Regions from separate parts of the Homo sapiens genome. Here region 2 is linked to region 1. Evidence: fine-mapped QTL for protein levels in blood plasma. Region 1 holds a variant in brackets. A gene starts in the other region. All regions are shown on their reverse strands.

The links. PIP is the posterior inclusion probability: the model's chance that the variant is causal. The UK Biobank Pharma Proteomics Project read protein levels with antibody pairs (Olink). The fine-mapping took linkage between variants from a reference panel, not from the people measured, so its PIPs are less certain.
Region 2: CTSO starts here. The variant in region 1 is fine-mapped to the plasma level of the CTSO protein (UK Biobank, PIP above 0.99).

Annotation. Positions count from the first base shown.
Region 1 is chr6:159,982,471-159,990,470 of GRCh38, reverse strand. The region is part of intron 1 of IGF2R (insulin like growth factor 2 receptor); the gene reads right to left. Among named protein-coding and RNA genes, the nearest start is that of IGF2R, 17 kb to the right of the region's middle. RefSeq lists enhancers at 2,401-2,975, 7,153-7,392 and silencers at 5,680-5,974, 6,980-7,274. The variant AG/G (reference allele first, on the strand shown) is at 3,730.
Region 2 is chr4:155,953,502-155,964,517 of GRCh38, reverse strand. It overlaps CTSO (cathepsin O), which reads left to right and starts at 10,652. Exons shown (of 8, transcript NM_001334.3): 1 at 10,652-10,805. The coding sequence starts at 10,671. RefSeq lists an enhancer at 9,247-9,541.

The sequences.
Region 1 (8,000 bases):
CAATCGTGACAGAAGGGGAAGCAAACACATTCTTTTTCAGCAAGGAGAAGTGCGGAGCAAAAGGGGAAAAAGCCCCTTATAAAACCATCAGATCTCGTGAGAACTCACTCATGACCACGAGAACAGCATAAGGGTAACCGCCCCCATGATTCAATTGCCTCCCACCAGGTCCCTCCCACAACACATGGGGATTATGGGAACTACAAGCTGAGATTTGGGTGGAGACACAGCCAAATCATATTAATCAGTAATTGCTCAAGACTCATGCTGAATATAAGATAGTAATAGCCTTTCCAATCACACCAAAATGCTGAAAAGCCAAAGGATTTTTTAACTCTATTTTATTAAAAAACTAGCTATGGCATGAAAGGCAGCTCCACTTCTGCTTTTACCTCTTAGAGCTACAGTTCAGATCTGAACTCGCAAGACAGAGCTGTGCAATGAGTCAGCTATCAGATTCGAAATCACACAAAATTCACTACACCAAGCATTAACACTCATTGTTCAAACCTCTGGCAAAGCAGATAGTGAGTTATTGCTAATGCATCAATCAGTATACTTGGGACAAAATAGGTGGTTTCCCGGTTCTGTGAAAACAATTATTCTCAAATGTCTACTCTTCCCTTCCCTGGGGAGAATGTTTTGTCCATTTTGTAAAATGGGGATCATCTCCTCAGCAGGAGTAAAAACAGAAAAGGAAGAAAGTGACTTAAAATGTCCTTGCAAAATGCAAAAAATAAAGACCTGGCCAGTGGCTCGTGCCTGTATCCCAGCACTTTGGGAGGCGAAGGCCAGAGGATCACTTGAAGCCAGCAGTTTCAGGCCAGCCTGGGCAACATACCAAGATCCCATCTCTACAAAAATAAAATTTTTTTATTTTCAATGCAAAAACTGTTATTTAACTCAACAGTATTGCTAAAAGGAGGGGCAATAAGTTAAATCAGAATTGCTTAGGCTAGGCCCATCCAGGAGTTGTGGAGGCCCTGGGGGTAAGACCACCATATATATCTACATAACTGTGTTATTCACCCTATGCAGTACTCCCTTGACGACAGAAGCACTCCCTCACAGAAGGAGCCGTCCACCTCCCAGAGCTTCCTTCCACAGTGCACCAAGGCAATGACTCAGCACAAAACCAACCACCAGGCCCCCCCACGTGCCCTCCTCCCCAACCCTGAACTAGTTTCAGCAATGGAGGAGAAAGAGCAGCCCTGGTGGGGTCACTGGAAGACGAGGCGCCAAGAACTCCTAGGTCTGGGAACCCATCAAACCCCCCTGCCAAGAAACCAAACCGCACACATAGGCCTTCAAAAGCATGGAGACTTGGAAGGTCTGATAGCCACTAAGCAGCTACAGACCTGAAGAGCAGGCTGGGGTACTCAGGTGCCCAATCTTAGGGTGATACCCTCGGGGTATGACTCCTCAGCTCAGCTTTTTCAGCAGGAACATGTTAAGAGGTGTCTCCTAGAGTCAAGATGACTCAAGGACATGAGAAAATAACCCAAGTATTACTGGGCACAGAGAAAAATCATCAATAAAGGCTTGTTTCCTTTGCCCTTCGTTAACCTTTATTCATGTGTTTCACAAGTATTTCTTAAGTACTTACTGCGGGAGGCACAGGAGAGTACAGCAATGAACAAAACAAAGACGCCCTGCCCTCTCGGAGTGTATATTCCAGGTTGCAGGATACAAGATAAACAAGTAAACAAAGACTTGGCTACTACTCAGGAAAAATGCTAATCTCTTATTCAGGAGCCATGACTAGTTTCTCCAGGATAACAGAGACAAACTTCAAGTAGCGGCAGTGGCATCATTAAACTATTTCACAATCCTAAGTATATGATATTGGTGCATGAGGGTGTCATTTAAAATGAGTTAACTGGTAGGAATCAACGCTAAAGAGATCCACACGTACCTAAAATGCTATGCTTTTCTTTTTTTTTTTTTTTTTTTTTTTTGAGACGGAGTCTCACTCTGTCGCCCAGGCTGGAGTGCAGTGGCGCAATCTCCGCTCATTGCAAGCTCCACCTCCCGGGTTCACGCCATTCTCCTGCCTCAGCCTCCCGTAGCTGGCACTACAGGCACCCACCACCACACCCAGCTAATGTTTTGTATTTTTAGTAGAGATAGGGTTTCACCATGTTAGCCAGGATGGTCTTAATCTCCTGATCTCGTGATCCGCCTGCCTCAGCTTCCCAAAGTGCTGGGATTACAGGCGTGAGCCACCGCGCCCGGCCTGCTATGCTTTTCTTAAAAGAAATCCACCATTCTTGCAAAGGGGATATCTAAATAAGGTAAAGAGTGTGTTTGCTTGGGGAGCAGAATCAAGATTTAAAAAAGAATAAAATGAGGGATATTGTCCTGATAATCTGGAAATCAGGGTTGCTAGAAAGAAAAGTGTTGCTCTATTCAATTATATTATTTTCTCTACTTGGATTTCATACTTGTTTTGTCAAGATTTATCAAATGTAAGTGGTTATGGGAGTAGGAAAGGAGGAGCCTATTAAAATACTTGAAACACTGACTTTTTTCAGGGGGGTGATTTAACCACTCAGCACAAGGCAGCCCTCCTCCAGGCCTGGCAACCTCAATGCCATTCAAACCCATCAGCAGCACTTGAGGCGAAGGCACCAATATCTCAGAGTTCTTAGTCACAGCTTTAAAATGAAGAATGGTCACAGCAGGTTTCTAAACTTCACTCCAAAGACACCTGCAAGCTGTCAGTACTTAAAACATTCTGATGTTTCAACGGACATTATGTCTCCTTTAAAACAAACTAATGGCAGGGCGTGGTGCCTCATGCCTGTAATCCCAGCACTTTGGGAGGCTGAGGCATGCAGATCACGAGGTCAGGAGATCAAGATCAGCCTGACCAGTATGGTGAAACTCCGTCTCTACTAAAAATACAAAAATTAGCCGGGCGTGGTGGTGCACGCCTATAGTCCCAGCTACTAGGGAGGCTGAGGCAGGAGTATCGCTTGAACCTGGGAGGTAGAGGTTGCAGTGAGCTGAGATTGTGCCACTGCACTCCAGCCTGGGCAACACAGCGAGACTCTGTCTCAAAAAGAAAAAACGAATATGCCTAGCCCCTAGTATCAACAGGAGCTCAGAAACAGTCATGTGGTTTAAATAATCTCTCTGAAAATTTATGAAGAATATTCCAAAAACTATTATGTACTCTGGTATGCACCCTGGTTAAACTATCACTAGATATGTTTCCACTAAAGTAAATATTTTTTAAAGACTATTTCATAATAAACTTGAAAATCGTATAAATAACTGACAACAAGTTTTAAGAAATCACATGTTTGAAACTAAAGGATTCTAAATTTCTTTTCAGATTAAAGGCCAAGCCCCTAGAATGGCCTAAGCTAAAATCATTCTTAAAATTAACTTGATATTAAAGTTTAAAAGCACCATGATCACATTATAGAACTAGAAAATGGTTTCAGAAGCAATAAAATTATTACAGACTAAATAAAATGTAATGATATCTTTGAGGAATAATAAATTTTTTGTCTGAAAGTTTGTCTGTTAGAAAATTCTCTACCTGAAGTGAACATGTACAGCCAGAATTAGGAAACTATTCCAAACAGTATGGTTCATTTAACAGCCAAGCAAATGAAACCATTCAGCTGAGATTCCCAGAAAAAGCCTACATTCTAGACTAAGTTATCTGAGCTTACACAAGTAAAGACTTAAGAAAAAAGCCAACAGAAAAAAAAAAAA[AG/G]AGATCAATATATTCAATCAAAGAGAAAACTAAGCTGTAACAGTAAGATGTTAAATGTTAGCAACAAACAAGCTTCTGGAAGAAAGTATCTGCAAGCTGTGTGGAAACACCGTCTTCACTCAAACACACACAAAAGAATGTGTTGAATACATTTTCTGAAAGAAAGAACTTCAGGCCATGCGCAGTGGCACATGCCTGTAATCACAGCACTTTGGGAGGCCAAGGTGGGAGGATCACTTGAGGTCAGGAGTTCGAGACCAGCCTGGCCAACATGGTGAAACCCTGAATCTACTTAAAAAAAAAAAAAAAACACACACACACACACACACACACACACAAAAATTAGCCAGGCATGGTCGCGCACGCTTATAGTCCCAACTACTCGGGAGGCTGAGGCACGAGAATAGCTTGAATCCAGGAGGTGGAGGTTGCAGTGAGCCGAGATCGCACCACTGCACTCCAGACTGGGTGACAGAGTGAGACTCCATCTCAAAAAAAAAAAAAAAAAGTTCTGCAGCAGGATAGGTAAGAAAGCCCAGTGAGCATTTTCCTGAAACTCTGTCAAGTCTTCTAAAAGTCACTGACTCTATGCTGTATTCCATCTCAACTGAAGGAAACCAGCGGGACACAGGAGAGGAGCGGGGAGAACTGCAAAGGCCCCCACAGAAGCGGCTTGTCCACTGGAAACAACCCAGGATCCCTGTCCGTTGTCCCAGTTGTACAAAATTCAGTGACCATCCTCAAGGGAGGCAGCCTGATTTTAGTTAAAATCACTCTTCTGGATGCAAAACCATCTTTCCAAGAACGCTGGTTCTTCAAAACCATCACTCTGGGACAGAAAATGTTCTAGAAAATCAGCAAAAATAAGTAAAATCTTTGCTATTCTATGTCATTTTTCAGAGCGTAAAACAGTTAGCCAATGGTCCCTCTCTCATTCTCAAAAAATCCAAATGCACTCCAAAGGCCAGCCTGACAGCTGGAGAGACACACATGTGCTGCAGCAGCTCCTCCAGACAGTGCTCCCCGGCTGAATCCACAGCTCCAGCACTAGCTGCCATGGCACTTCATACAGCTCAGTGGTGGCATTTTCTGAAGTGTCTGTTATCCCCAATGACACCGTCACTCTGGGACAGTAATGTCTTCCCTCCTGGAGCAATGACTGGCAGATGCAGGATCAGCATCTCTACTGATGGCTTGAGAAGGAAACTGGCCAGTGGCTAAGAACGCATGACAGCACGGCTCTCACCCACACAGCTAACATGTGAGCCAAATCTCCCCACAGAACGTGATGCCATTATCCAACCCTCCCAAGTTCCTCAGCTTTGAAGCCAAATATCCCAAGGCTCAGAATGAGGAACTTGCCCAACATCACGGAATTATAAAGTGAAGAATTAACCTAGGCGGTGTGAGGCCCACGGGTGAGTCCTTAACCAATTAGGTAAACGGCTTCATTTATTTTCCATTTAAAGAAATGGTTTTAACTTTTCAGAAAACATTTAGTTTCAGTTACAACACAAAAACTGGCAAAACATTCCACAAAACTTTAGTTTAAATCTTGTCACAATAAATGCCATTAAAAGGACAGACTCTGTATGGCATAAAGATCTCTGAGTTCCTATTATATTGCCAACCATCTACACAACTTGATTCAATAAAATGCTAGTCATATAGAAAAATTACAGTTATCCCTTCGCAGCACCTTGTAATCACAGATACAAGACCCCCAGTAGAGGCCTGGAACCAGGAATACGGTTTCGGATATGGTTTTTCCTTTACATACATACCCATGATTAAGTTTAATTTATAAATTAGTTGTAAAAGATTAACAACTAATAATAAAATAGCACAATTATAACTGTAATAAAAGGTATGTGAATGTGGCATCTCTCTCTCAAAATATCTTCATATTTTCAGACTGCAAGTGACCATGGGTAACTGAAACCTCAGGAAGTGTAACTGCTGATGGGGGGACTGGTTTATAGTCACTCACTTAATGGCGATACGTCATCAGAAATGTGTCATGAGGCAATTCTGTCACTGCTCAAACATCATCGAGTGTATCTGCACACACATAGATGGTGTCGCCTACTACAAACCTAGGCTATATGGTATGTCCTATTGTTCCCAGGCTACAAACCCACACAGCATGACGCTGCACTGAATACCCCAGGCAACTGTAACATGTGACACATATCTAAACGTAGAAAAGGTGCAGCAAAGATATGGTATAAAGGATTAAAATGGCACACTTGCCTAGGGCACTTATAATGAATGGAGCCTGCAGGACTGGAAGCGGCTCTGGGTGAGTCAGTGAGTGAGTGGACCTAAAGGCCTAGGACCTGACTGGACGCTTTCATAAGACTGGTAGCGCAGTGGGTTCGTTTACAGCAGTATTACCACAAACATGTGACTAATGCATTGTGCTACGACATTACAATGGCTACAGCATCACTAGGTGATAAGAATTGTTCAGCTTCATCCTAATCTTCTAGGACCAAGGTCATTTATGCAGACTGTAGTTTATGCAGTCCGTCATTGGCCAAAACGCTTCTCTTCTCGTTTTTAATGTCATGGATACTACTTATATCGTAAAGGCAGAATTCTCAGAATGGTTGAACCCATCTGAGGACAGCCTCTATGAAAAAGCTGTGAACTGTCTGAAGATTCAGACCACATCACATCATGCTGATCAACAGATCATATGCTTTTCCTTGCTCAACTTCTTCCCCAAGCTTAAACTTCTGCTACTCTATACTCCCAGTCCAGTTCTGCTTTCTCTTCTGCACAGTGTGAATTGCCAAACACCAGAGCATTGCCTTCCACAACCTCTCTTCCCATACCCAACTGGTTTCCATGGAAATAATATCAAGTCCCTCAGCCGGCTCCTTCCCACTGGCTGCACTGTCCTTGCTATTTCTATGTAAGCAGCTTGTGAACTCTACAAACAAGGTCCACATCTATATTGTCTTCCTCAACTCAGATGCACACTCTCCTTTAATGAGACTACTCAGCTCAGCAGAGTCCAACAGTGACACAACTCAGAAACATTCTACAATCAAACCATCAGGCCCAGCAGGAAACGGGGAGCAGCAGAAGTCAAATACAAGGCAAATGACTTTAGAAGATCTCTGCTTTTAAAGCAAAGTCTGTGGCAGAAACATACCCTATTTTTTTAATTTAACAAGGGCAATTAATTTAACCATATAAACCAAGCACACAGTCGGAATCTTTCCCATAAAGAAAGCTCAGATACTGTTTTGCTCCTGACTGTAATCTCACTGCTTCTGCTGAAACTATCCTGGAGAACTGCAGTCAGTCCACGCCTGTTCAGAAGTACAGAGGTTCCATTTTAACCTCATTTGCTTGAAATTTCATAATATCCTGAAAGGTGTTGGCAGATTACCAATTAGAAGGAAGCACACAAGTAACAGACTGTCAGCTGGTTAACCCAGAGACAGGAAGGTGTTTCTACTTTCCTGCTACTGTTCCAGCAAGGGCCGCAATCGAAACCCACCCTGGTCCAGACGAAACCAATCGAGGGGCTGCAATGAAGAAGTCAATGTAGCCCCAGGCCGACACAGCTGCCTAGAGTTCAAAAAGCTTAAAACAGAGATGCAGAGCCATCTCCACTGAGTGAGTTCTAAATGTCTGTCCAAAAATGAAAAATAAAAAATTCAAAATACAATGTCATAGGGATACAGATATAGAATATCTTTAAACTGACATTGGTATCTTAATATGACACCTCTCAGAGTTTTCATATATGCCATCACTCAATGCTTGCAAAACCACAATAGCTTGCAAGATGTAATTTGGAGTTCTTTCCTTTTAAAAACAGCTAGCATCTAAAGTATGTAAAATTCTATGATCAAAATATATGGTATGCTCAATCTCTTAAAGAAAATAAATCTTAGAAAACTGGGTTCCTTCCCTTCAACACAAAACATCTCCATGAAGTATCACTCTGTCCCTTCCTCATTTATTGCCATATATCCAAACTCTTTTAAAATATATCTTAGTTTCCTCAGTCCCTGTGAATCTTGGGGTTATGCTAATGGTCATGTAACTATTAAACATTTTACTACTGGCCTGCAATTAATAAAGCAAGATAAAGGCAGGATGGGATCAGTAATAATAAAAGTAGGCACGTGTGAATCTGTAATTTGGTTTCCTTAAAAGACAGAAACCCAGTTGGTGACACATAAGTGAAATTCACATAACAAGATACATGGTCACTAGCTAGAGAAATGTTTCTCTGAGTCTACAGCAA
Region 2 (11,016 bases), not on the chromosome of region 1:
GGAGCTAAATGAACACAGAAGAATGTGATAGGAAGTAAGGCCTGAAAGGCAGGCCAGGGCCAGATCACTCTGATCAGTAAGTGTCAGCTCTGGTTCTATGCTAAGGGTTACCTTGGTTTGAAATAAATCAGAATCTCTGGGGATGAAGTTTAGGCGTCAGATTTTGGAGTTCATGAGTTGGATTCTGACCTTCAGCCAAAGAGGAAAATCACTGATCTGGGCCTTGGATGCTAAAGAAAGGAGTTTGAATTTTATTCCAAGCCATTGCGATGTTTGTGGTGCCCCACCCACTTCCTTCCTCAACCTCATTTCTGTGTGTCAAGTTCTTAACTATCTTTTGGATATGTTACACTCTCTTCAATTAGAAGAGTCTTATGACAATCTCTCCCTCCCCTGCGCCCTCCCACACTCTCTTACCTCTTGATAACACAGTGCTGCACAGATTATGTTGGAGTGTATACATGCTTATTCCTCACTAGAAGATAAAATGCTCAAAAGCAAGAATTATTTATCCTCAAACAGTGTCTCGTCCATTAAGATAAAATGAAGTATTTTAAAGAATACATTTAAGGGCTTTGCTTAGAAACAATTGCTTAGACTAAAAGCTCATGTTATAACAAAGTCCCCATGCTTTAGTCAGTCAAAGCATTCAATAAATACCCAAATGTTAGGCACTGAAAAATAGAGACAGAGATGGCTTCATCAGGTTACAGCTATTTGTTCAAATTGGGAACACATAGAGTGTCATAATGTAATTAGGAACAGGACAAAACAGGAATAGAAGCTGCATGTTTCAAATGTAATTTCTTCCACCAAGTTATGAAGCCATGAAATTATTTCCTCTAGCAATAGATGAAGTAACACATATATAATCAAAATTCTAACTTTTATATTATCATGGTATAAACAGTATCTAATAGTAATGGATTCAAGTTTGGAACAATTTCAAAAGTATCAAGAAAAATCATGCAAAAATTATACCATTCATTTAAATGAATATAAAGCAGAACTCTTTGAAGCCTCAAGTGAACATGTACTTCATGGACAAAACTGCACCTAGTTTTATGTGCATAATTTATATGTATTCATCAAGTATCTGATTCTCATTGCTGTGATGGACATCTGGTTTTGTCATAAACTTACAAATGGACAAATAGTGAATGGAAAATAAGGCAAAATTACTTTCTTGGAGTCCTAAAGTGTTTTGCAATGTAATAAAAAACAAAAAATTATATTGCCTAAGAAATAAAACTGAATTTCATGAAGAACAAAGGCAGTCACTTTACATAGGAGCTTACCTTGAACAGCAGTCTACAAACAAACTAGAAGCTAAAAATGGCCTTGTGAGTTCAGGGCTGGTAAGCATTGAAATGTCTGGCCAACTCTAGTTCACATTGTGATATATAGTTCTATTGGGTACAGACTGTCAAAGTGAGTTAGTGTCAATGAAAGAAAATGGGAGATGGACTTTCAGATGTTCTCATTCAGCTGAAAAGAAAAAATACAGTTCAAAGAGCTTTTCCTCACTGAGCTTTTCAAATAACCACTCAGTAGGAAGGACATACTGCTTGGAAGGGAGGGCTTATAGGAATACTCAGAGAACTTGATAGCTACCATCGTTTTCAAAAGTGAATCCAGGCGTTTGCTCCTGTCCTTTCACCTCAAAAAGAGTAAACAAGTGCTAAAGATAATACAATCACCCCTTTCACATTGTCACTTGACTGGTGATGTGAATTTAAATAGCTGCTTTTAAGCAGTTTCATCCAACCAACTATGCATTAACCAATTCACGATCTCCAGCTTCTTTTAATACACACCAGCCCACGATGGCCATAGCCTGCAGCCTTCTGCAGATATTAGGTCAGGAATAGCACCACAAGTCGCCCTTAAAGTTGACAGCAGAGGCATTCAAGATAATCTAGGTGGGATATTTGTAACTTTTTTTCCTCTACACATACCACCAAATCTAGACTTAATGTGGTAAAATGCAAATGTAAAATTTAGACTAAAATTTTCTGAAGTTCAACTTTCATACAAACTATACTTGTATATATTATGTATTGACAACTCTAAGTCACCTCCCATCTGTCAAATTCAGACATTCATACAATACGTGGCATTCAATATTTTGAGCAAACTCATTTTGCATGGTCTTCTGACCAATGACTTCCTTTCGGAACGTCACCTTCTTTGTCAATAAAGCAGAGTCTGCGTCATTATTTGGATGATTTTCTTGTTCATTGGGTTTTATAAAGCATTTGTTCCTATACCATCGTAAAGATAGAATGGAAAAGAAAGATAGAAGTACCGATGCTTATAATAAGAAGGACAGCCACAAAAACAACAAGGACAGATAAGATTAAGCTGATCTCAGCCAGGTTCGGTGGCTTAAGCCTGTAATACTGGTCGTTCAAGAGGCCGAGGCAGGTGAATCATTTGAGGTCAGGAGTTTGAGATCAGCCTGGCCAACATAGTGAAACCTCATCTCTATTAAAAATACAAAAAAAAATTAGCCCTGTGGTAGTGGCACATACCTGTAATCCCAGCCACTCAGAAGGATGAGGCAGGAGGATCGTTTGAGCCTGGGAGGTGGAGGTTGCAGTGAGCCGAGATCGTGCCACTGCAATCCCATCTGGGTGAAAGAGTGAAACCCTGTCTCATAAATATATATATATTTATTTATATTTCTTTATATAATATACATTGTATTATATATTATTATATTCAATATATTGTATATATTATATTTAATATTATATATTAAATATATATTATGTGTGTGTGTATATATTATATATATATATTTTAAGCTGGTCTCCTGCCTCCATAAATCCATTCATCAGGCCTCCAGTTAGAGTCTAACTGTGAACACAGAATCAAAATGTAAGACTTGTATGGAATGTTAGAAGTATGCCTTCTAAAGTTTTACCTTAAAACTTCCGGGTATAATTACAGACTTTATTTACATTTCTTTCCCCCCTTTAATTGGTCTGAAGTACAGATGTGAGTTAATTCAACCTCTTGATTTCTAATACATTATTAATAAAGTCTATATTGACCCCCTCTTTTGTTTTATTCATTTTTTTCCTCTTCAACTCAGAGATGCCTTTCTGGGTGTTGATGAGAGACTACGGCTATAAGACCAGCTATTTACTGCTTGGAATGAATCCCAGGTCAAATAAAAAAAAAAGGTCCAAATGAATATAAATGTTATGACTAAGAGCATATGAGTTCTTAAGATATAAAACTACTGAATATCTGTAGTGTAAGAGAAAATGTCCTTGATTGGTTCCAAACAGAAGGGTAATAAAATACGGAATGTAGAAGAGGCATTTGAGACTTAGGTTCAACACAAATGCACTAGTAAGACTTAATCAGATATTGAGCACAGAGTCAAATATTCACTCTCAAAATTGGGCAATTATCAAATTTGGGGAAGCTAAGGGAGTAGATAAATATCAGAAAAATTGATCTGTGTTTTTAGGATCATGGAATTCTTCAGATGGGAATATCTGAATAAACCACTCACTCAATGCTTGCTGTCAGAATTGTTCTATTAAAAGTCTCCAGCATAAAAACATTTTTAAAAGGCCATCTTCTCTGCCCAACCTACATTCTGCCTCCTCCTTCTCCCACCATTCACTTTTCACAATGGACATTGAAATATGACCTCCGAAATCTGAACCAGAAGCAAACAAAAAGGAAACTAGTCATTCAGAGTGAAAACGTGTCAAAAGAGAAGGTTTGAGTCAAATCCAGGTGGCGATGTTCCATGAAATACTAACAGAACTCTTCATTTTCATGAGAGAGCAAGAACAGGCAGTGTTTATAATGACGCATTAACATCTGTCTGCGAATATCATCTCCATGGCACCAAAGTACACCACCCAAACAAAGGAAACTCACAGTAAAGGCAAAACTGTACCTTTTTGTTTTAAAATAGGGAATTAGTATTTGAACTGACAAAGAATCATCATATACCATTGACAGGTTCAACTAAAGTATACTATTACCATAAAGTGTCTTTTCATACTAGATTAGACATAATTAAAGCAGACACAATGGAAGTTTTAGTATGAAAAATGTCTCACAGTCCACCACAGTTGGTGGCAGTAGAGTACAAGTGGAATAAGTACTGCCTTTGACACTGTATTTACCTATATTTAATATCAGATTTATCATTCATTAGCTTTGTGTCCCTGAGCAAGTTTTAATTTCTCTCGGCTTCAGTTAAATTGAGGAGAGTAATACACTGTTCACTGTAGGAATTAAATGAGGTAATAGACATAGACCCCTTGCAAATTACTTACCTATTAATGTCTGTACAATAAGTGTCAGCATTCTTTCTGCTTTCCTTACAAAATCGTCTCCATTATTCTGATCTAACTTCATAATTCCACATTCATTGTGAAAGCAGTTTTTTGAGGCTATAAAAATGAAATGGCTTTCTATTTTTTCAGTCACTACTCTCAGCCCATATCACTTGAATTCCCTTTCCCATCCTTGAATGTCATCTTGGGCAGATATTAGAACTTTCTGAATATCTTTCTGTTTAGAATTAACAAATTAGAATTCAGTCTTGTGCATATTAAAATTCCAGTCTCATATCTAATTCAAAGCTTTCCCTTCTGCCATCTCTGGCTATGCTTGTGAAGTGAGCGAAGAAAAGGGACATGTTTTGCTTTTTCCCTATCTCCTCCATGCCCTTGACAGCTTTGAGCCCTGGATAATAGTGAGCAGGAGGCTGGATTGTGGGGAGCAGGAAGATATCACTGTTTAACAGGACTCAGCTGCAGGGCTCCCAGGCCGGGTCATTGTTGCCCCTCCAGCTCTCACTGACTGGCCGTCCAGCCTTCTTCCAGGCAGACCCCCGTGCTGACCCTGTCCTTGAGCACATGTGTGTGGTCCATGGGACGCCCTCCTTGGGCTCCTGGGGCACAGTTCTCTGAGATGAGAAACCTGGGTCTAGTCCAGTCTCCAGCCCTAGACCCTCATAGTCCACCCTGAGCCCACTGCTACTGGCTTCCCCTCATGCAGTGGAAACTCCCTCTGGAGGGTTCCACTTGACTCATGAGAAACACACTTCCTTTCCATGCCAGAGTTGTGGGTGCCCCCTGCCTTATTCCTCTCCCCTCTCTCCATCTCGCCTTTTCCCCTGTTCAGGAGGGCATAAGGAGAAAAGCAGCAGTGTGGCCTAACCAGGCATCTAAATGCAAATCAGAATACCAGGCTTCCCTTTTTTCCGTTTTTTGCAGATAATCCCACCATCTTTCATTCCCTTCTCATGAATCTTCCCTGCTGCCAGTAAACCTGAGCATTGAGAAGGGAGTGCCTCTTCCTTAGATGAGGATGAGGGACTCAATACTCTCCACTAACACTGTAATTCCCAGACGACTGGCCAATTTTTCTTCCCCTCCTGGGGCACCCCCTAGTATAGTCTTGGAGGGGTTCCTCTTTTCATGGGGCTGACTCTGCAGGTGTCTGGTTGGAATGGTTCATGGTTGTCTTTACAATGTAGGGTAGGTCCTCTTGCCAGTTTTCAGGCGTGAATTCAGGCTAACAGTTTTAGGGTAAAGGGAAAAATTTTCATCAGTGCTGAGTTGCAAATGGGAAACAAAAGCCTGAGAAACAATAGAATTGAATAAATGGCAAGAAGCACAAACATTAGGTGTACGCAGATTCTGCTTTTTCCTCTGTGATGTGGTCACAAACTTACTCCAACTACAACTTTGTAACTAACGTCGTCTTCACAGCTCCCACACAAGGCAGTAGAAAGACTTCAGTCTGTTATTTCTGCTCTCCAGCTCTCCACCATGTTCCTCTCTAGACAGTGTTTGATGTGTGAGTGCAAGGACATGTATGGAATTGTGAGGGGGCACAGGGAATAGACCCTCAGGTCTGTCCTGTGTCCTTGAGGTCCATGCCAATCCTGGCTCTACATCTGATATTTCTTGGGGAGTATACAGCCCGGTTTCTTCTCTGGATGTTCTGATTAGCATCTGTGGCTGAATCAGCAGTTGACTAATGCCCAGCACTCAGCTCATTGAGGGCCAGCCACTTCTCCCTGCAGATCCACACTTTGCTTGGCTTGTGCAAGGCTAGACACACATTCTCTGTCAGGTACCTCACCCCGATAGCCTGTGAGGCATGTAATTCTACTCTCTTAACGATGCAGTCTTCCCTGTCCTCTGTGGAATTGTTTGTGTGTTTTTCTATCAATTATCTATACTGATAAGTTTCCTTTGGAAATTTCCAATAACTATTGGGTTAAGAGAGTGATCTATTAAATATTTAGTTCCCTGAGATGGTTCAGGACCGTCATCACCTCAAATGTACTTGATAGAAGAAAGAAGCCATTATTGTTTACTTTGTCATTTTGAATAGGCATTTTGTTACATTATTTGTTGCTTCAACTTTTTAAAATTTTAATTTTAATTTCAATGGTGTTTGGAGTACAGGTTACATGGATAAGTTCTAAGATTTTGGTGCACCTGTCACCTAAACAATGTACACTGTACCCAATGTGTAGTATTTTATCCCTCACCCCCCTCCCACCCTTCCCGCCGAGTCCCCAAAGTCCACTGTATCATTCTTCCGCTTTGCATCCTCATAGCTTAGCTCCCACTTATAAGTGAGAACATACAATATTTGGTTTTCCAATCCTGAGTTACCTCACTTAGAATAATGGCCTCCAGTCCATCCAAGTTGCTACAAAAGACATTATTTCGTTCCTTTTTATGGCTGACTAGTATTCCACAGTGTATATATACCACATTTTCTTTATCCACTCATTGGTTGATGGGCATTTAGGTTGGTTCCATATCTTTGCAATTGCAAATTGTGCTGCTATAAACATGTGTGTGCATGTGTGTTTTTCATATTATGACTTATTTTCCTTTGGGTAGGTACTCAGTAGTGAGACTGCTGGATCAAATGGTAGTTTACTTTCAGCTTTTTAAGAAATCTCCAGCTGGGCACAGTGGCTCACACCTGTAACCCCAGCACTTTGGGAGGCTGAGGCGGGTGGATCACGAGGTCAAGAGATTGAGACCATCCTGGCCAACATGATGAAACCTCATCTCTACTAAAAATACAAAAATTAGCTGGGCATGGTGGTGTGCACCTGTAGTCCCAGCTACTTGAGAGGCTGAGGCAGAAGAATCACTTGAACCCGGGAGGCAGAGGTTGCAGTGAGCCGAGATCATACCACTGCACTCCAGCCTGAGCAAGAGAGATACTCCATCTCAAAACAAAACAAAACAAACAAACAAACAAACAAAAAAAAGGTAAAAAAAAAAAAAACAAAGAAACAAAATAATTCCGTAGCAAAGTCACTGAAACATGAAGTAGCATGATTAAAAATGGAAGAAAACCCAGAAGGTGCATAACGGGATAAAAACAACAGTAAATATTGATTTGTGTATCATAAAGGTTAAGAGGTATTTGTGAAAATGGTTAGCTCTGGAGTATTTTCACACATAAAGAAATGACTGCATTTGTTACTGGGCTTATAACATTCAACATGAGGCTGTGGTAGCGGGCCTCCAAGATGGCACCTGATGACCCCACCTTATGTCAGCTCCACCTCCCACATCTTACCAGACTGGCTCTGTGTAACCAATGGCAGAAGAGATGATATGTTTCAAGATAAGGTTATAAAAAGACACTGCTGCTCCCACCTCAGTCATTCCCTGGTCCACTGTCTCAATTTCTCTATTCACTCATTCTGCAGGAACAAAGAGCTGGCAGGAAAAGCCCAGCCTTCTGATAAGGTTCTGAGGATTTTGTCCAAAGGCCTAAGAGGAGCTGAGGACTCTTGCTAACAGCCACATGAGCTTGAAATTGAATCCTTTAAACTTGGGAAACCTTCAGAAGATTGCAGCCATATGCAACAGCTTGTCTGCGTCCTCATGAGACACTCTGAGCTGGAACCACCCAGATAAGCTGCTCCCTCCTGGTCCACAGAAACTGTTTAAGATAAGAAAAATTCGTATTTTTAAGATGCTAAGTTTGAGGGTTATATTTTACATGGCAATAGATATCTAATACAGAGTTGAGGGAAGTTCCATGTGCTATTTTGCAAATTTGATGAAAAAAACACATCTCTACATATACATGTAATTTGTAGTGTTTATTCTAAGAATTAGCAGATACTTGCCACCTTCACTTTTCAAGCCACTTTTCAAAAACTTTGTTTTACTACTTAATAGATGATTCTGATCTCCCTTTTAACTGACCCAAAATTCTTCACAATCTGTGCGCTTCTTACTTATCTCATATTCTACTCTCCCCCATCCTTTTTTTTTTCCTTTACTCCATCCATGCTGACGTCTTTTATGTTTCTGGAACGTGCCAAGCAAACTTCCATCTCAAGGCCTTTGTGTTGACAGTTCTTTCTGTCTTAGCTTCTCTTTCCCTGGATATCTGAATATCCATGTGGCTCACTTTCTTCTCCTTCAAATCTTTGCTCAAAACTCTCCTCATCAGTGAGGACAGTATTGAACAGCTTATTTAAAATAGCAGTACCACCCCTCACACTGATGATGCTCCTTATCTGGATTTATTGTCCTTTAACACATGTACAAGTTGAGCATCTCTAATCCAAACACCCAAAATACTCCAAAATCTAAAACTTATTGAGTACTGACATCATGCCACACCTAGAAAATTTCACACCTGACTTCATGTGGTGGGTCATAGTCAAAATGCATTCAAAGCCTTGTTTTATGCATAAAATTACCTAAAATAGTCAGTAAGATTACCTTCAGTCAGTAGCATAAGTGAAACACAAATGAATTTTGTGTTTAGACTTGGGTCTCATCCCCAAGAGATCTCATTATGTATATGCAAATATTCCAAAATCTGGGGGGAAAAAATCTGAAATCTGAAACACTTCCAGACCCAGGCATTGTGGATAAGGGATCCTCAACCTGTAGTAATTTTATTGCGTCTCTCCCCCTCACTGAAATACCAGCTTCAACAGGGTGGGGCTTTTCATCTCTTCAGTCACTTATGCACTTCCATCCATGATGTGTCCTGATGACCTAGAACAATGCCTGACACTTAGGAAGTACTCAATAAAATATTTGTTGATGTAAATCAATTGAAATATCAGTCCCATAGGGATGGGGATTTTCATCCCTTTAGTCACTTATCCACTTACTTGATATATCCTCATTACCTAGAAGAATGCCTGACACTTAGCAGGTACTCAATAAATACTTGATGTGAGCTCCTGAAATGAGTTTAGTTCAAGGGGCTTTTTTACAATACCAATTATCCTAAAGTAAAGATGACTGCCTATATTTAAATTTCCTGACTCCGTAGGTTGTCAATAAACAGGGACTATGATCTGAAAGCAAAGTTCAGTTTAAAAAGAAAAGTATGTGCTTGTATGAGTCACAAAAAAGGGCTAAGTACAAAAGAACTGCTGAGGTAAACATGAACATCGTTCTGTGAACTTATGATTTAAATAAAATCTTTATCACCACACTTGCCAAGAGCAATATATCTTATCATGAACGTACATAAAAAACTCTTGTGTCTTTCCTCTTAATACTCGGAACATTATTTTTATTTTTATTACGAAGTTTGCATTGGAGAATATTGTAACTCACTGCACCTAGGTAAAAACTAAAGACATAAATCTGATGTTAGTTCTAAAAATCTACAAGGGTAATGATATGAATTTCACAGACATGGAAGCCTTGTTCAGAATAGATGATAATAGAAAGGCTCGGTAGAGCCAGGTTCATGAGTGTGTGACCTGTGCAGAAGTGGGTGCTTAGAAGGCCCATGGCTTGGGTTAATGCTCTGCTGTTGCCGTCTTGAAATTCTTCACAATTTATGAACAAGGGAACTTCATTTTCAGTTTACACGGAACCCTGCAAATTATGTACTTGGCTCTATCTTCCTTTGCAAACGGAGAAACAGGCTTCAAGAGTTTTGAAACTGCCATAATAGATCCAAAAACTGTGTATGCTTTTCACATCTGTACAATTTTGTTACGTATTTATAAACATCTGCTGAATGGATGACTCTATGTATTGGCCCACATCACTTCAGAACTAGGTCTTGAACTTAGGGATTGTGGCAAGAAGGAAAAAGGCAGCTTCCGGTGGCTCACAGGGCAGGCCAGGTGGCTCACACCTGTGAGCATTTTGGGAGGCCAAGGCGGGTGGATCACTAGAGTCCAGGAGTTCGAGACCGGCCTGGGCAATATGGCAAGATCCTATCTCTACTAAAAATACAAAAATAGCCTGGGGTGGTGGCACGCGCCTGTAGTCCCAGGTACTCCGGAGGCTGAGGCAGGAGGCACTTGAACCTGAAGGTCGAGGCTGCAGTGAGACCTGATCTCAACACACACAAAAGAATGACTCTCAGGCTTCTTTTTTTCTAATGGATGGAAGTGAAACCTCGAAAGCACATGGTCAAGTGCCTGACTCTTCCAAAACAAAAACAAAAACAAAAAAACTAGCCTCAGCAAGGAGGTCCGTAGCCTCCAGCTGACCGGATTTTCAGTCACAGAACACCGGGGACCTAAAAAAGGGTCAATCTCAGCATCGTGCACTCAACCCAGCTCCTTCCGCCCCTCGAGCCCAGGCTGGGAGGAGCCGAGGAACCGAAAGAGAAAACAGGCCGCGCGGGCGGCAGAGGAGCCGGGCGCCGCAATGGACGTGCGGGCGCTGCCGTGGCTGCCGTGGCTGCTGTGGCTGCTGTGCCGGGGCGGCGGCGATGCGGACTCCCGCGCCCCCTTCACCCCGACCTGGCCGCGGAGCCGCGAGCGTGAAGCCGCCGCCTTCCGGGTACCGAGCGCGCGCCTCCCCGGGATCTGTCCCTGCTCCCTCACTTCCTGTCCCGGGTCTGGGCTGCGGAAGAGGGCCCCCGAGAGCTGACCCTGCTCGTGGGCACCCGTGGCTCTGCGATGCGTCTGGGGCCCTGAGCTGCGGGTGCAAAAGCCAGCTTCTCTCTCCCCTCTCCTTGTGCCATGGTGTCACTCCCCCATGCCTTTGCTAA